Linked DNA regions of Homo sapiens. The protein of the gene in region 2 interacts with the protein of the main gene of each other region in a pairwise test. Each region holds a gene or a part of one and is shown on either strand. Other genes may lie near its edges.

The links.
Region 1: the proteins of SLC18A1 (region 2) and APOL2 interact in binary tests that used the Homo sapiens proteins (3 or more experiments, as listed by UniProt).

The regions. Positions count from the first base shown.
Region 1 is NC_000022.11:36,236,514-36,244,175, reverse strand, and holds the start of APOL2 (apolipoprotein L2), read left to right. Parts: upstream 1-4,648; 5' UTR 4,649-4,735; exon of another isoform or gene 4,736-5,040; intron 5,041-7,327; exon of another isoform or gene 7,328-7,580; intron 7,581-7,662.
Region 2 is NC_000008.11:20,173,137-20,180,157, reverse strand, and holds part of SLC18A1 (chromaffin granule amine transporter), read left to right. Parts: intron 1-673; coding exon 674-1,037; intron 1,038-1,664; coding exon 1,665-1,723; intron 1,724-5,713; coding exon 5,714-5,797; intron 5,798-7,021.

The sequences.
Region 1 (7,662 bases), on a different chromosome or scaffold from region 2:
TGATCTGGGTGAGGCCTCTCGCTGCCAGCTATCCCCCACTTCCCTGGCGAACTATATGGCACAGCAGAGGCAGCCATAATCCCCTCTGTAACAAACCCCATTGGCCTTAGGACAATCTGCATCCCTCACAGTGGCCGCAGCAAGCCCTGCTTAAGGAAAGTCTGAGCTCAGACCCAGCTAACCCTGCCCTCCACCTGATGGTATTTCTCTACTTATCCTGGTAGCTGAACACAAAAGACATAAACTCGTGGGAGCTTTATGGCCCTGCCAATCACCTGAGAAACTAGAATACTTACCCTGGTCAACCTAGGGCAAGCTTGTATCTCCCTTCTACTACCGCAGCTGGTGCTCTCTTGAAAGTGCCACTTCCTGGCTGGAGACCAACCAACTCAGGCCATTACAGCAACTCATGACAGAATAACCCTATTCCCAGGAAGGAGAAGACAAGAGCTAATACCACTGCCCGCAACATCCTGACTGACCAGAGGTCCTCAGTCTCTCCACATGACAGCTTCACTGCTAGCATAACCAGCATTGGAGAAAACAGCACACTAAAGAGAACTACAACCAATGACTCTCACGGAGTCTACTTCACTCGCCTGTCACCTACACCAGAGTAGGTGCTGGTATCCATGGCTAGGAGACCAGAAGATGATCACATCACAGGACTCTTTGCAGACATTCCCCAGCACCAACCCAAAGGCTGGTATAGCCCCAGTGGGTGGCTATACCCAGAAGAGCAATAACAATCACTGCAGTCTGGCTCTCAGGAAGCCCTATTCCTAGGAGAAGGAGAGTACCACATCAAGGAATAACCCGTGGGACAAAAGAACCTGAACAGAAGGAGTTGAGTTTCAGATCTTTCCACTGAAATAGTCTACCCAAATGAGAAGGAACCGGAAAAGTAATTCTGGTAATATGACAAAACATATTTCTATAACACCCCCCAAAGCTATTGCTAGCTCCCCAGCAATAGATACAAGCCAACAAAAAATCTCTGAATTGCCATATAAAGAATTTAGAAGGTTGATTATTAAGCTATTCAAGGAGATAGCAGAGGAAGGTGAAAACCAACTTAAAGAAATTTTAAAAAATACAGAATATGGATGAAAATTCTCCAGAGAAATAGATATCACAAAGAAAAAACAATCACAGCTTCTGGAAATGAAAGACACACTGAAAGAAATACAAAAGGCACTGGAAAGTTTCAACAATAGACTAGAACAAGTAGAAGAAAGAACTTCAGAGCTTGAAGACACAGCTTTCAAATTAACCCAATCAGACAAAGACAAAGAAAAAAGAATTTTAAAAAATGAGCAAAGCCTCCAAGAAATTTGAGATTATGTTAAATGGCCAAATTTAAGAATAATTGGTGTTGCTGAGGATGAAGAGAAATCTAAAAGTTTGGAAAACTTATTTGAGGGAATAATTGAGGAAAACTTCCTTGGCCTTGCTAGAGATCTAGATATCCAGATACAAGAAGTTCAAAGAACATCTGGGAAATTCATCACAAAATGATCCTCACCTAGGCACATGTCATCAGGGTATCTAAAGTCAAGAAGAAGGAAATAATCTTAAGAGCTGTGAGACAAAAGCATAAGGTAACCTGTAAAGGAAAATCTATGAGATTAACAGCTAATTTATCAGCAGAAACCATACAAGCCAGAAGGGACTGGAGTCCTGTTGTTAGCCTCCTTAAACAAAATAATTGTTAGTCAAGAATTTTGTATCCAGCAAAACCAAGCTTCATAAATGAAGGAGAGATAAAGTCTTTTTCAGACAAACAAATGCTGAAAGAATTCGCCACTACCAAGCCAGTACTACAAGAAATGCTAAACGGAGTTCTAAGTCTTGAAACAAAACCTCGAAATACACCAAAATAGAACCTCCTTACAGCATATTGTTTTATAAGCCTTAGGGCCTATAAAACAATAACACAATGAAAAAAATAAGGTATTTAGGCAACAACTTGCCTGATGAATAGAACAGCACTTTATATCTCAATACTAACATTGAATGAAAATGGGCTAAATGGTTCACTTAAAAGGTACAAGGGCTGGGTGCAGTGGCTCACATCTGTAATCCCAGCACCTTGGGAGGCTAAGGCAGGCAGATCACGAGGTCAGGAGATCGAGACCATCCTGGCTAACACAGTGAAACCCCATCTCTACTAAAATACAAAAAAAAAAAAAAAAAAAAATTAGCCAGGTGTGGTGGTGGGCGCCTGTAGTCCCAGCTACTCGGGAGGCTGAGGCAGGAGAATAGCATGAACCCAGGAGGTGGAGCTTGCAGCGAGCCAAGATCGCACCACTGCACTCCAGCTTGGGTGACAGAGAGAGACTCCATCTCAAAAAAAAAAAAAAAAAAAAAAAAAAAAGGTACATAATGGCAGAATGGTACCGGTATAAAAATAGGCACATAGATCAAGGGAACAGAATAGAGAACCCAGAAATAAAGCCAAATACTTTCAGCTAACTAGTCTTTGACAAAGCAAAGAAAAACGTATAGTGCGGAAAGGACACCCTATTCAACAAATGGTGCCAGGATAATTGGCAAGCCACATGTAGAAGAATGAAACAGTATCCTCATACAAAAATCAACTCAAGATGGATCAAAGACTTAAATCTAAAACCTGAAACCATAAAAATTCTAGAAGATAACATCGGAAAAACTCCTCCAGACATTGGCTTAGGCAAAGAATTCAGGACCAAGAACCCAAAAATAAATGCAACGAAAACAAAAATAAAGAGATGGGACCTAATTAAAGTAAAAAGCTTCTGCACAGCAAAATAAATAATCAGCAGAGAAAACAGACAACCCTCAAAGTGGGAGAAAATATTTGCAAACTGTGCATTTGACAAAGGACTAATATCCAGTTTCTACAAGGAACTCAAACAAATCAGCAAGAAAAAAAAAATAATCCCATCAAAAAGTGGGCAAAGGACATGAATAGACAATTCTCAAAAGAAGATATACAAAATGAAATGGCCAAAAAAATATGAAAATGTGCTCAACGTCACTAATTATCAGAGAAATGCAAATTAAAACTGCAATAAGTTGCCACCTTACTCCTGCAAGAATGGCCATAATTTAAAAATCAAAGAAGAATAGAAGGGTGCAGTGGCTCACACCTGTAATCCCAGCACTTTGGGAGGCCAAAGCAGGTGGATCACTTGAGGTCAGGAGTTCAAGACCAGCCTAGCTAAAATGGTGTGAATATGGTGACAAGGGAAAACTTTTACACTGGTGGTGGGAATGTAAACTAGTACAACCACTATGGAAAACAGTATGGCAACTCCTTAAAAAACTAAAAGTAGAATACCATTTGATCCAGTAATCCCACTACCGGGTATCTACCCAGAGGAGAAAAGTTATTATATAAAAAAGATACTCGCACATGCATGTTTATAGCTGCATAATTTGCAACCGAAAAAATATGGAACCAACCTAAATGCTCATCAGCCAACAAGTGGATGAAGAAAATGTGTGTGTATATACACACACACACACACACACACACACCCCTATATATGTATATGCCATGGAATATTACTCAGCTGTAAAAAGGAAGGGAATAATGGCATCCGTAACAATCTGGATGAAGTTGGACACCATTATTCTGAGTGAAGTAACTCAGGAATGGAAAACCAAATATTGTATGTTCTCATTTATTAGTAGGAGCTAAGCTATGAAGACACAAAGTCACAAGAAGGATACAATGGGCTGGGCGCCGTGGCTCACACCTGTAATCCCAGCACTTTGGGAGGCCAAGGCAGGTGGATCACTTGAGGTCAGGAGTTCAAGACCAGCCTGGCCAAGATGGTGAAACCCCATCTCTACTAAAATTACAAAAAATTAGCTGGGTGTAGTGGCAGGCACCTGTAATCCCAGCTACTCGGAAGCTGAGATGGGAGGATGGCTTGATTGTGCCACTTGAAGTAGCTATGATTGTGCCACTGCTCTCCAGCCTGGGCTACAGAGCAAGACTCTATATCAAAAACATAACAGAAAACATAACCTCAGAAGCATTACAATAAATATGCAATAAGCATCCACCCAGCATGTGTGGGGGACTGTGCTGATGCTGATGGCATGTGTGGGAGTAAGGCAGGCATCTGAGGAATGTGGGGGAACGGAAGGACGGGGAGTAATCTGGAGAGCCCCACGGTCAGTCAGTGGCAGGTCTTTCTTGAGCTCAGAAAGGTTAGGTAACTAGTTCAGATCAGACAGTAAAACAGGGGCAGAGCCTGGAATTGCACTGAGGCTTGAGTCTGACTTCTCTCCCCCACCTGCTGTGCCCTTAAACTGCAGAGATCGGGGCGGGGGTTGGGGGGCAAGCGGCTCAGATGGGTTCAAAAAACTCCCCAGGCTCAACTCTGGTTCTGACTGCCTGAGACATGGGCAGCTGACACAGCAGACCTTGAATCCTGAGGATGTGAGGCAGGTGGGTTGGATGAGAGGGACCCGGATGTCTGGTCTGCGGCTGCTCCTCTAAGTGCAGCAGCAAGGAGGCTGGGCCTGGACTGCAGGTGGTGCTGGGGAGCAGCGTGTTTACTGTGCTTGGTCATGAGCTGCTGGGAAGTTGTGACTTTCACTTTCCCTTTCGAATTCCAGGGTATATCTGGGAGGCCGGAGGACGTGTCTGGTTATTACACAGATGCACAGCTGGACGTGGGATCCACACAGCTCAGAACAGTTGGATCTTGCTCAGTCTCTGTCAGAGGAAGATCCCTTGGTAAGTTGGGGATAGTGTGATCTACCCCCATGTCCTTATTCTTGCAATAGCTCTATAAGGGAAGGATCATTCAGCTTTTGTAGATAAGCTCAGAGAGGTTAGGTAGCTGGTTCAGATCAGACAGGAAAGCAGTGGCAGAGCCGGGATTTGCACCCAGGCTTGAGTCTGATTGCTCCCTCCCTCCTGCTGGGCGGGTAAACTGTAGAGAGAGGTGGGGAAAACAGCTTAGATGGGTTCACAAAGCTCCCCGGGCTCAGCTCTGGTTCTGACACCCTCAGACACGGCCAGCTGACCCCAGAAGAAAGGTAGGTGTTGGGGGTGCCCATCTCTTTGGGAAATTTGAAGGAATCAAAGAAGGTGGAGGAGGGGAGGTGACCTGGAGCCCGGCATGTCCTTGTGGCCGGGCCACACCCAGGCTGGCCCCAGGGTGCTGCTGCTGAAGCCCAATGGGAACAACAGATTTCTTTTGAGACACAAGGAACTCAGAGGTTGTCTCACTCACCCTGAGTCTGAGCACCTACTTGTGCCAGGCCCTGTGGGGAAACTGAGGCCCTGGGAGGGGAATGACTTGCCAGGGTCCCGTGTCAGGAGGCTGAGCAGGCAGATCATAGGACTTCACGTCTCTGGCCCTCACCTCTGTCCCTCTGTTCAGACCTCTGAGCTGATAGAGAAGAAACAGGCTGTGCTGTGTCCCTAATGGGAAACATGGCTGAGACAGGGGAGTGAGAAGGTCGCATTGCAGAATGGTACCTGTGGCATGATGCCAGCTTTGCAATCATGAGATTCAAAAGCCACACTGTGGAATTGTGAGTATAACTACAGGAGTGAGAGCTTAGGTCTCTGTGTTTGTAGAAGCAGAATCAAACCTGGACACTGTTGGATTATTAAAATCACCCATTTTTGCTTCAATATCAGAGTCACAAGGGCAGATGTTGGCCTCCCCTCTGCCCTCCAAGAGCTGTGTGACTCTGGGCAAGTCACCTCCCCTCCCAGCCTAAGATTTTTCCCCTCTAAAAAACTTGATAGAGCTGCCAAAAGTCCATGAAATCAGGGGGGTAATTTCTGTGAAATATGAGTCATGGTCTTATTTGTTCTTCACCAAAAAGAGATGCCCATCAAGATAGAAAGAAAAATTAAATTCAATTTCTCAACTGAAAGTGAAACTGAAGCTGGGCCATGTCATCCAGAGGCTGGTTGCTTTTAGTTCAAGTAATGCCTCCTGCACCTGGGATTTCAGCCAGGCTGTGCCAGGGAGGGCGGAGGGCATCCAGGTCAGTCGTAGGGGGTGCAGCTGGGAACACAACAGTGTCCCCATTGAATGTTCAGAGTCTAAAGGGGAGACAGAGGCCCAAAGAGCCACATACAGGTAGAGCTCCCTCTGGAAAGCAGAGTGCTCAGGGAGCCTGGGGAGGGTTGGGGGCCGCCGCATGGACCAGGCAGCTTTGGGTGGGTCTCTGAGGACAGGTGACTTGCACATGGTGGGGACAGTGGGGGGGACATTCCAGGGCGAGGGAGCAGCTGAGTGAAGGCCTGAGGCTGGGGATGGGAGTGGGAGGAGTAGATGGGCTCCAGGAGGCACCGAAGCAGGGCGTCAGTGGGTGCCTGGACCTAAGGTGACTGTGGTGGCAGGGAGCGGTGAGGAAGGTGGGGTCCAGAGCATCAGAGGGCCTGTGTGCCCTGCTATGGGGTTTGAACTTGACCGTGGCTTTTCACTGAAGATTCCTCAGAAGGGTGCAGTGCCACGGCTGAGGCCTGTAATTCAGTGCTGTGGGAGGCAGAGGCGGGAGAATCACATGATGCTAGGAGCTCAAGACAGCTTGGGCAACACAGGAGATGCTGTCTCTCTGAAATGAAAAATTAACAAATTAGTCCTGCATGGTGCCGTGTGCCTGTAGTCCCAGCTACCTGGAAGGCTGAGGCAGAAGGATCACTTGAGCCCAGGGGCTCTAGGCTACAGCAAGCTGTGATAGCCCCAAAGCACTCCAGACTGGGTGACAGAGCAAGACAGTTTCTCAAAAATAAAATGAAAATGACGATTTCTCAGGAAATCATTTCGACTCCTCTTTCCCTGCCCAAGGAGGATGCCCCACAACCACTTGGAGGGAGATGCTTTGCTGAGAGTCCCTGTCCTCTGCATCTGGAGAGCTTGGCTCAGAGCTGAGGTGGGAGGGAGGGCTCCTCTTCCAGGTCGCTCAGTTGGACACCGGAATTGACCAGCCTGCAGGCTCACCCATGGAGTACACACTGTGTCCTAGTCAAGCCTGAGGGGCAGTATCCAGCCTCAACCCCCAGCAGAGGCTCCAGACAAAGGTGGGAGCCAGGCCAACAATGACCCAGGAGGATGGGATCCTGGATGCAGCTCCTCACAAGTATTGGGCAGGTCCGAGGCCCCAGCTCTGTCTGCCCTCCTGCTCCTCTTCTCCCTCCTGGTCCTCCTGGTTCTCATGGCTCATGAGATGGCGTTGAGACAGCTCCCCTGGCCTAGGGTGTCACAGAGTGAACAAAGCAGGAAGAAGGGGAAGGGAAGACCCCCTCCCGTCACCCCGTCCCTTACAGCAAGAAGTGTCCAGATGCCCCTCTGCATACTCCCCTGGTGAACTGCTGCCCAGGACTGGGTCCCCCTTTTAGTCTTGCTGCGTAGGGGCCCCAGAAGACAGATATCTGGATGCCTCGACCCTGAAACAGAGGTGGGAAGTGGAAAGAGGGAGGCGAGTGGCTTTTGAGGAGGGGGCTTTTGTATAAGAGCTGGAGGATGCCCGGGAACCACTGAGCTGTTAAAATAAAGTCTGCAAACAAAGACCAGCTGCTGGAAGTGGGTGTGCCGGGGAGTGCGCAGAGACACAAGGTGAGAAAAGAACAATGGTGATTTTGGAGCCGCCCCTAACTGGGATGGGCCTGAATCGGTATTATCATTATTACTTATAGTG
Region 2 (7,021 bases):
TTGCTCCCAGGGAAACACACACACACACACACACACACACACACACACAATTATAATCTTAAATCTTAAACATCGTGGTACATCGTGTTTTCTTTATAAAAGAGAAAAAGAAGTTCAGAAGTGTTAAGTGACTTGCCCAAGGCCTCTCCACTAGCAGGTGCCAGAGTTGGGATTCAAACCCTGTCCAGGGGTCCCAGAGCTGAGGCTCCTCTGACCACCCTGCCCTTCCTCCTCCCATCCCCTCCTGTGGCCAGGTCTGTGTGAGAGCTGGACATGTCTGTGAAATGTCGTGGTAGCTCAGTGTGTGTTGGTTTGGGGGGTTACATGTCAATCTAAGTGAGTAGGAGAGTTAGCCAATGTGGAAACCATGAACAATGAGGACTAACTGTATAAGGTCAGAATTTAGCTACTTTAGCTAATAGGATAACTTGGGCAGGCACAGTCTTTTAGTAGGTTTTAACCATGCCACTCCAGATACCAGCCTTGGGCATAAGGCTGAACCTCATCATAGTCCCCTGATCCTAGTAGTGGTAAGATGACATCTGTCCTTAGCCCCCATCACCTGTCCTCCTTGACTTTCAGTAGAATTGACATCTGTCCTTAGCCCCTTGAGTTTCAGTGGTAAGATGACATCGGTCCTTAGCCCCCATCACCTGTCCTCTTTGACTTTCAGTGCCAATTGTGCCCACCTTCCTATATGACATGGAGTTCAAAGAAGTCAACTCTTCTCTGCACCTCGGCCATGCCGGAAGTTCCCCACATGCCCTCGCCTCTCCTGCCTTTTCCACCATCTTCTCCTTCTTCAACAACAACACCGTGGCTGTTGAAGAAAGCGTACCTAGTGGAATAGCATGGATGAATGACACTGCCAGCACCATCCCACCTCCAGCCACTGAAGCCATCTCAGCTCATAAAAACAACTGCTTGCAAGGCACAGGTTTCTTGGAGGAAGAGATTACCCGGGTCGGGGTTCTGTTTGCTTCAAAGGCTGTGATGCAACTTCTGGTCAACCCATTCGTGGGCCCTCTCACCAACAGGTATCTCACTGGGTGCAGTGCCCCGCAGGGTACACAGGAGTAGGAGGACTAGAAAAGTATAGAAAGGGGGTTGGAAGGGAAAAAGAAGAAATACTCACTTGTATGATTCCTCAGGGGAGTCAGCTATTCGGAAAGCTCGTTACTCAAAGAATAACATGTTACTGATGAAATGTTATGGGATCAGATTTTCTTAGTGATATATTGAGTATTGAGTACCAAGAAGAGAACCATGAACAGCAGTGTGCTGTGATGTTCTATCAGTGACCTGGAGCATGGCTTGAATGGGAAAAGGGTATGAATGGGACAGTCCTGTTGTAATCTAGAGCACTGGCTTCCCAGGAGTTGTATTGACGATTATTCTGATATTTTCAAGAGATATACACTCCACCTAGGCTATCATTTCTGGAAATGAGAATTTTGGCCCTGATCTATGGTCATATCTGCATGTTTGTTTGTTTGCTCATACTCATCCACATGCCCTATTTCATCTCCACACTACATTCAGAGGCATGTTTTACCATACACCCAAATAGCTGCATTTCTGCTCCCACTTACATTTAAAAATGTAGTCCATGTATGTGAGTGCCTGTTGGAATTGTATCTTTTTTTTTTTCAATTCCCTTTTAGGATTGGATATCATATCCCCATGTTTGCTGGCTTTGTTATCATGTTTCTCTCCACAGTTAGTAAGTAATTTGCTTCCTCTTTTCTTCCCTTCACTGATTACCTTTGATTTTATCAAGTGAATGCGGTGTAGATAGCAGGGTAACCTAGAATGTAATTAGGCATCTGACTAAGCAGACTGGAATATTGGTTTAAATGCTCTGCTGTTTTTGGTATGTGGACTAGAACAGTAGTGACAATTCAGTCTAGTTGGAATTGGTCTATTCTGCTATAGAAGAACAGATATTTTATTCACTTCACTTCAGCTGGACATAATGAGAGCTGTTTGAATATGTATGCTACGGGGTGTGTGTGTGTGTGTGTGTGTGTGTGTGTTATATGCATCAGTAATCCCTTGAGCAAGTTTAATACAAACTTTCCATCTATGAGAAGCAATGATATTATTTTGTTATGCCATGGAAAAGGGCAACTCACAAAAAAATGGAAATTGGACAATAACATCTGGAAAATTCCAAAAAGCCTACTGCTTTTCAGTTAAGGGCTTTAAAGGTTAAGCTTAGAAAAGTAAATTTGCTAAAGAAACAAGAAAGAGAAAGACAAATACTCTATCCAGGATCAGCTAAATGTTTCTAATAAAATGGAGATGGGATAAACACAGTACATGAGAAAAGTAAGTCTGGAAATTGATGCTGAGAAGTAAAGGAAGAAGGAATGAAAAGGGTTAGCGTTAGCAGGTTAAGGCAGGGGAAGGCAGCCTGTGGATCCAGCCTTGGTTCCCGATGGCCCTGCTGAACCTCTGCTCTCCAACAACACACCTCCTTCTCCCTCGCGTTTTTCTTTTCTTTTCTTTTCTTTTTAATTATACTTTAAGTTCTAGGGTACACGTGCACAACGTGCAGGTTTGTTACGTATGTATACATGTGCCATGTTGGAGTACTGCACCCATTAACTCATCATTTACATTAGGTATATCTCCTAATGCTATCCCTCCCCTCTCCCCCGACTCCATGACAGGCCCCGGTGTGTGAAGTTCCCCTTCCGGTGTCCATGTGTTCTCTGTTCAATTCCCACCTATGAGTGAGAACATGCCTCTCATTTTTCTTATTACCTTTCTGTTCCTTGTCTACTTTCTGTCTTCCTCTTCCTCAACTTTTCTTCTTTCCCAGCACAGAACTTGATTCCTAGCAACCCAATATTTAACAAGAATTTGTTGCATTCTGGGCTGGAAGGCTGCAAACTGCAAGAACTTGAGATGTGAGGTTGTCTCTGAGAACTACGTCTTGTTTGTGAAATTTTAGTGGACTTGAAGAAAATGAAGAAATTCAAATTAGCACTGTTCATGGAACTTCTAGCAGTTCAGCCTAAGTTAGACAGCAAATTTAAAAATAATAAGATGCCAGGTGCCCTATTTCATCAAATGAGGCTTAAGATTTATTCCAAACAACTTTATGCAGTGCATGTATAATGCCCAGATGGCCATAGTCACATAAAGAATGAAAAGACATGATTCCAGCTATCAGAAGTGTATATGATGGTTGCCTGGGGAGACATGAGACACACACTGAGAAGTAAGACAATGCGGTGTGCTAGTGGATCTGAGACGTTTTAGCATGATATCCTTGCCTGATTCTCTGCCAAGAATTCATGTGTTAAAAGCTTTACTTTTAAAGTAAACTGTATATGTTAAGTAATTATTGTTTAACTTATACCAAACTATATATGTTAAATAATTATTATTTCCATAGGATAGCTGTGTTGCTATATGGAGTTGGCCTAATTCTAACCAAAAGAAAATACATTTGATGTTTAGGGTATCCTTGTCCAATGTTCTAAAAAATACTTAAAAGAGATTGTTGATGCCCGTTACTACCCTTAAACCCTCCACCCCCCAACTAGGAGCCATGCCTAATGTAATCAAGAGTGAAATGGTGGCCCATGTAAAGGGTCCAAAGTGAAAAAAATAATTGCTTTGGTATTCCTAAATAGAATGACCAACTCTCCTGGTTTGCCTAGAATTGAGGGGTGTCTTAGTCCATTTAGCATTGCTATAAAGGAGTACCTGAGGCTGGGTCATTTATATTAGAAAGAGGTTTGTTGGCTCATGGTTCTGCAGGCTCTACAAGAAGCATGACACCAGCATCTGCTTCTGGTGCGGGCCTCAGGGAGCTTCCACTCATGGTGGAAGGTGAAGGGGAGCTGGCTGTGCAGAGATGAGAGAGGAAGAAAGAGAGAGGAGAGGGAGGTGCCAGCCTTTTTTTAACCAGCAGCTCTTGAGAGAACTGTAGAGTGAGAACTCACTCACCACCAAAGGAAGACATTAAAGTATTCATGAGGGATCCTTCCCCATAACCCAAACACCTTCCACTGGGCCCCATCTCCAACACCGGGGATCAAATTTCAACATGAGATTTGGTGGGGACAAACAACCCATGTCCACACTGTAGTGAGGGGCTTCCCAGGATGTAAGACTTCCTGTTTTTGTGGGGTATTTTGAGTTTCAGTTTTAAAAACAAGGAAGTTCTGGGCAGACCAAGATGAGTGGGTCACTCTATTCTCAAAGGACATTGGGAGAGTAGACAGAAAAGACTGGAAATAACAAAGTCTGAGAAAAGATGCTGGTGGCCAGGAAAGAAGAGACCAAGAATGTGCATCTTTGGGAGACAAGGAGAAGTTCGGTGTGATCATGTCTGCCGGGAAGTAATGGGAGAAGATTAAAAACACAACCAAAGACATCTGTAATGAATGGGCAAAGGGATTACAATTCTTCTGATTCAGACACTTCGAGGAGATTATTCTTACCCTAGGAGACATTTTTCTGGAATTGGAGGTGAGACATGTCTGGACTTAACTACCCTGACCACCAGCACCCTCTGATTTAGTTTTGTGTTGCGGGAAGTCAGGGACCCTGAATGGAAGGACCTGCTGAAGCCATGACAGAAGAACATAAATCATGAAGATTTCATGGACATTTATTAGTTCCCCAAATTAATACTTTTATAATTTCTCACACTTGTCTTTACTGCAATCTCTGAACATAAAATTGTGAAGATTTCATGGACATTTATCACTTCCCCAATTATCAATACTCTTATAATTTCCTATGCCTGTCTTTACTTTAATCTCTTAATCCCATGGTCTTCGTAAACTGAGGATGTATGTCGACTCAGGACCCTGTGAGGATTGCGTTAACTGCACAAATTGTTCATAAAGCGTGTGTGTTTGAACAATATGAGATCTCAGAACCTTGAAAAAAGAATAGGATAATGGAGATGTTCAGGGAGCAAGGGGAGATAACCATTAGGTCTGACTGTCTGGGAGCCTGGCAGGACAGAGCCATATTTCTCTTATTGTTTTGGATGACATATTCCTGTTGGATCTCAGTTTCCTGGGTGTCCATCTTCAACACACTGCCTCTCTTCACGGACAATAACTAGATGTTATTTTTATTTTGCATTTGCTACAGAGTCTAGCAGAGCTGCGCATTCAGTATAATTTAATACCTGCTGATTTTGTCTGGTTAAAAGATCGTTCAATATAAGATATAAAAAAGGATCTGATTGTATCACAAGATATTATTTTCTACCCAATTCCTATAATCCTCGAAGCACCTACTTACTGTCACTGTACTCCAGATGATCCTGTGGGACCCAGCAATGGTAAAGACCAGATCTGGATTTTGCACATGGACGATCCAGGAGTATGATCTAAGAACCAGTTTCCAGCCTAGGACACTGAGCTTCATGGACATCCCTCATTTCAGTGGACAGAATGTTGGGTTCTTGGCAAGAGATGTACAGACTCAGCCTTCCATCTGCTGTGTGGTGACTCGGTTTATACTTCTGTGGTTTCTCAGTTTTCTTGCCATTTAAATAGCAAAACTGAGGAGTGGGAGATTGAAAAGACAACTCAAAAAACAGGGAACAGTCATCATGCTTTATTAAAAACATATGCATCAAGACTCATATCTGCAGTATCACGGGCATGTTCTCTGGCGGCTGGGGAAGCAAAGGCAATTTGCTAACTGCAGTTATCTTGCTATTCTCTCTGCCCAGTGTTTGCTTTTTCTGGGACCTATACTCTACTCTTTGTGGCCCGAACCCTTCAAGGCATTGGATCTTCATTTTCATCTGTTGCAGGTAACACTGGCAACTCATCATGCACACACACATGCAGGCATGCACACACACACATCTCTTACTACCTCAGATCCTATATTTACATGGAGAAATTAAGGAAAATGTCACCTGGATAGGTAGAAATTGTGATTCAGAAATAAGGGAATTGGGCTGGGCACAGTGGCTCACACCTGTAACCCCTGCACTTTGGGAAGCCAAGGCAGGAGGATAGCTTGATTCTAGGAGTCTGAGACCAACCCGGGCAGCCTGGGCAACATAGTGAGAGCCCTATTTCTATTAAAAAAAAGAGAGAATAAGTTAGCCAGGCATGGTGGTGTGCACCTGTGGTCCCAGCTACTTGGGAGGCTAAAGTGGGAGGATGGCTTGAGCTTGGGTGGTCAAGGCTGCAGTGAGCCATGATTGTGCCTCTGCACTTCAGCCTGGGTGACAGAGCTAGACCCTAACTCAAAAAAAAAAAAAAAAAAAGAAAGGAATTACAGAGTTTCTAACAGGGTCCATAGATCTCTGAGCCTGACATAACTTCCTCTGCTAATATTCAGATGCAGCTAGCTCAGGTCAGAGCAAGCCTCCAGTGAAGCTATGAAGAAGGGCAGGCTTTCATTTAGTGCCACTCTATGGTCCTTTTTCTGTCCCCCTCTTAGTACTTTATAGGAATAATCATGTTAGTACTACTGGTAACACCAGCACAGTTTTCAAAGTACTGGTGAATATAATATCTAATGCAATCTTATGAAGTTGGCATTTTATGCCATTTTACCCATAGCTATGAAGGCCAGAGGGTCCAGCTGCCGTACAGCACTAGCCCACACTTTCTTCCAGGTCTGCAGTGCTTTCCTGCTCTTCCCTGGGCACCCCTGTTAAATAGAATGGTCTCTGTGTGCCTAGATTTTCCTTTCCCTGATCTGCTCTGTAACCCCTCATTTTGGGAAATGTGCTAGGAAATGATAAAATGTTATGAAACATGGTATAATCAGACAATGGATTTTCTGTGTTATCCTTCCAGAGGGCTTGCACTATCAACAATATTCTGAACAGGAGTGGACAATGTGGGGGCTTGGGGGACTAGGGAGGGTAGTACTTGAAAAATACTACGGGTTAAGTTTTGTAAAACCCCTCAAACTGAAACTCTAGCTAAGATTGTCACTGAAGAGATAACAGGGTGGGACCAAGGGCTCTGAGAGGCGGATAGAAGCCCCCCAGGGGGCCAGCTGCATCTGTAACTCT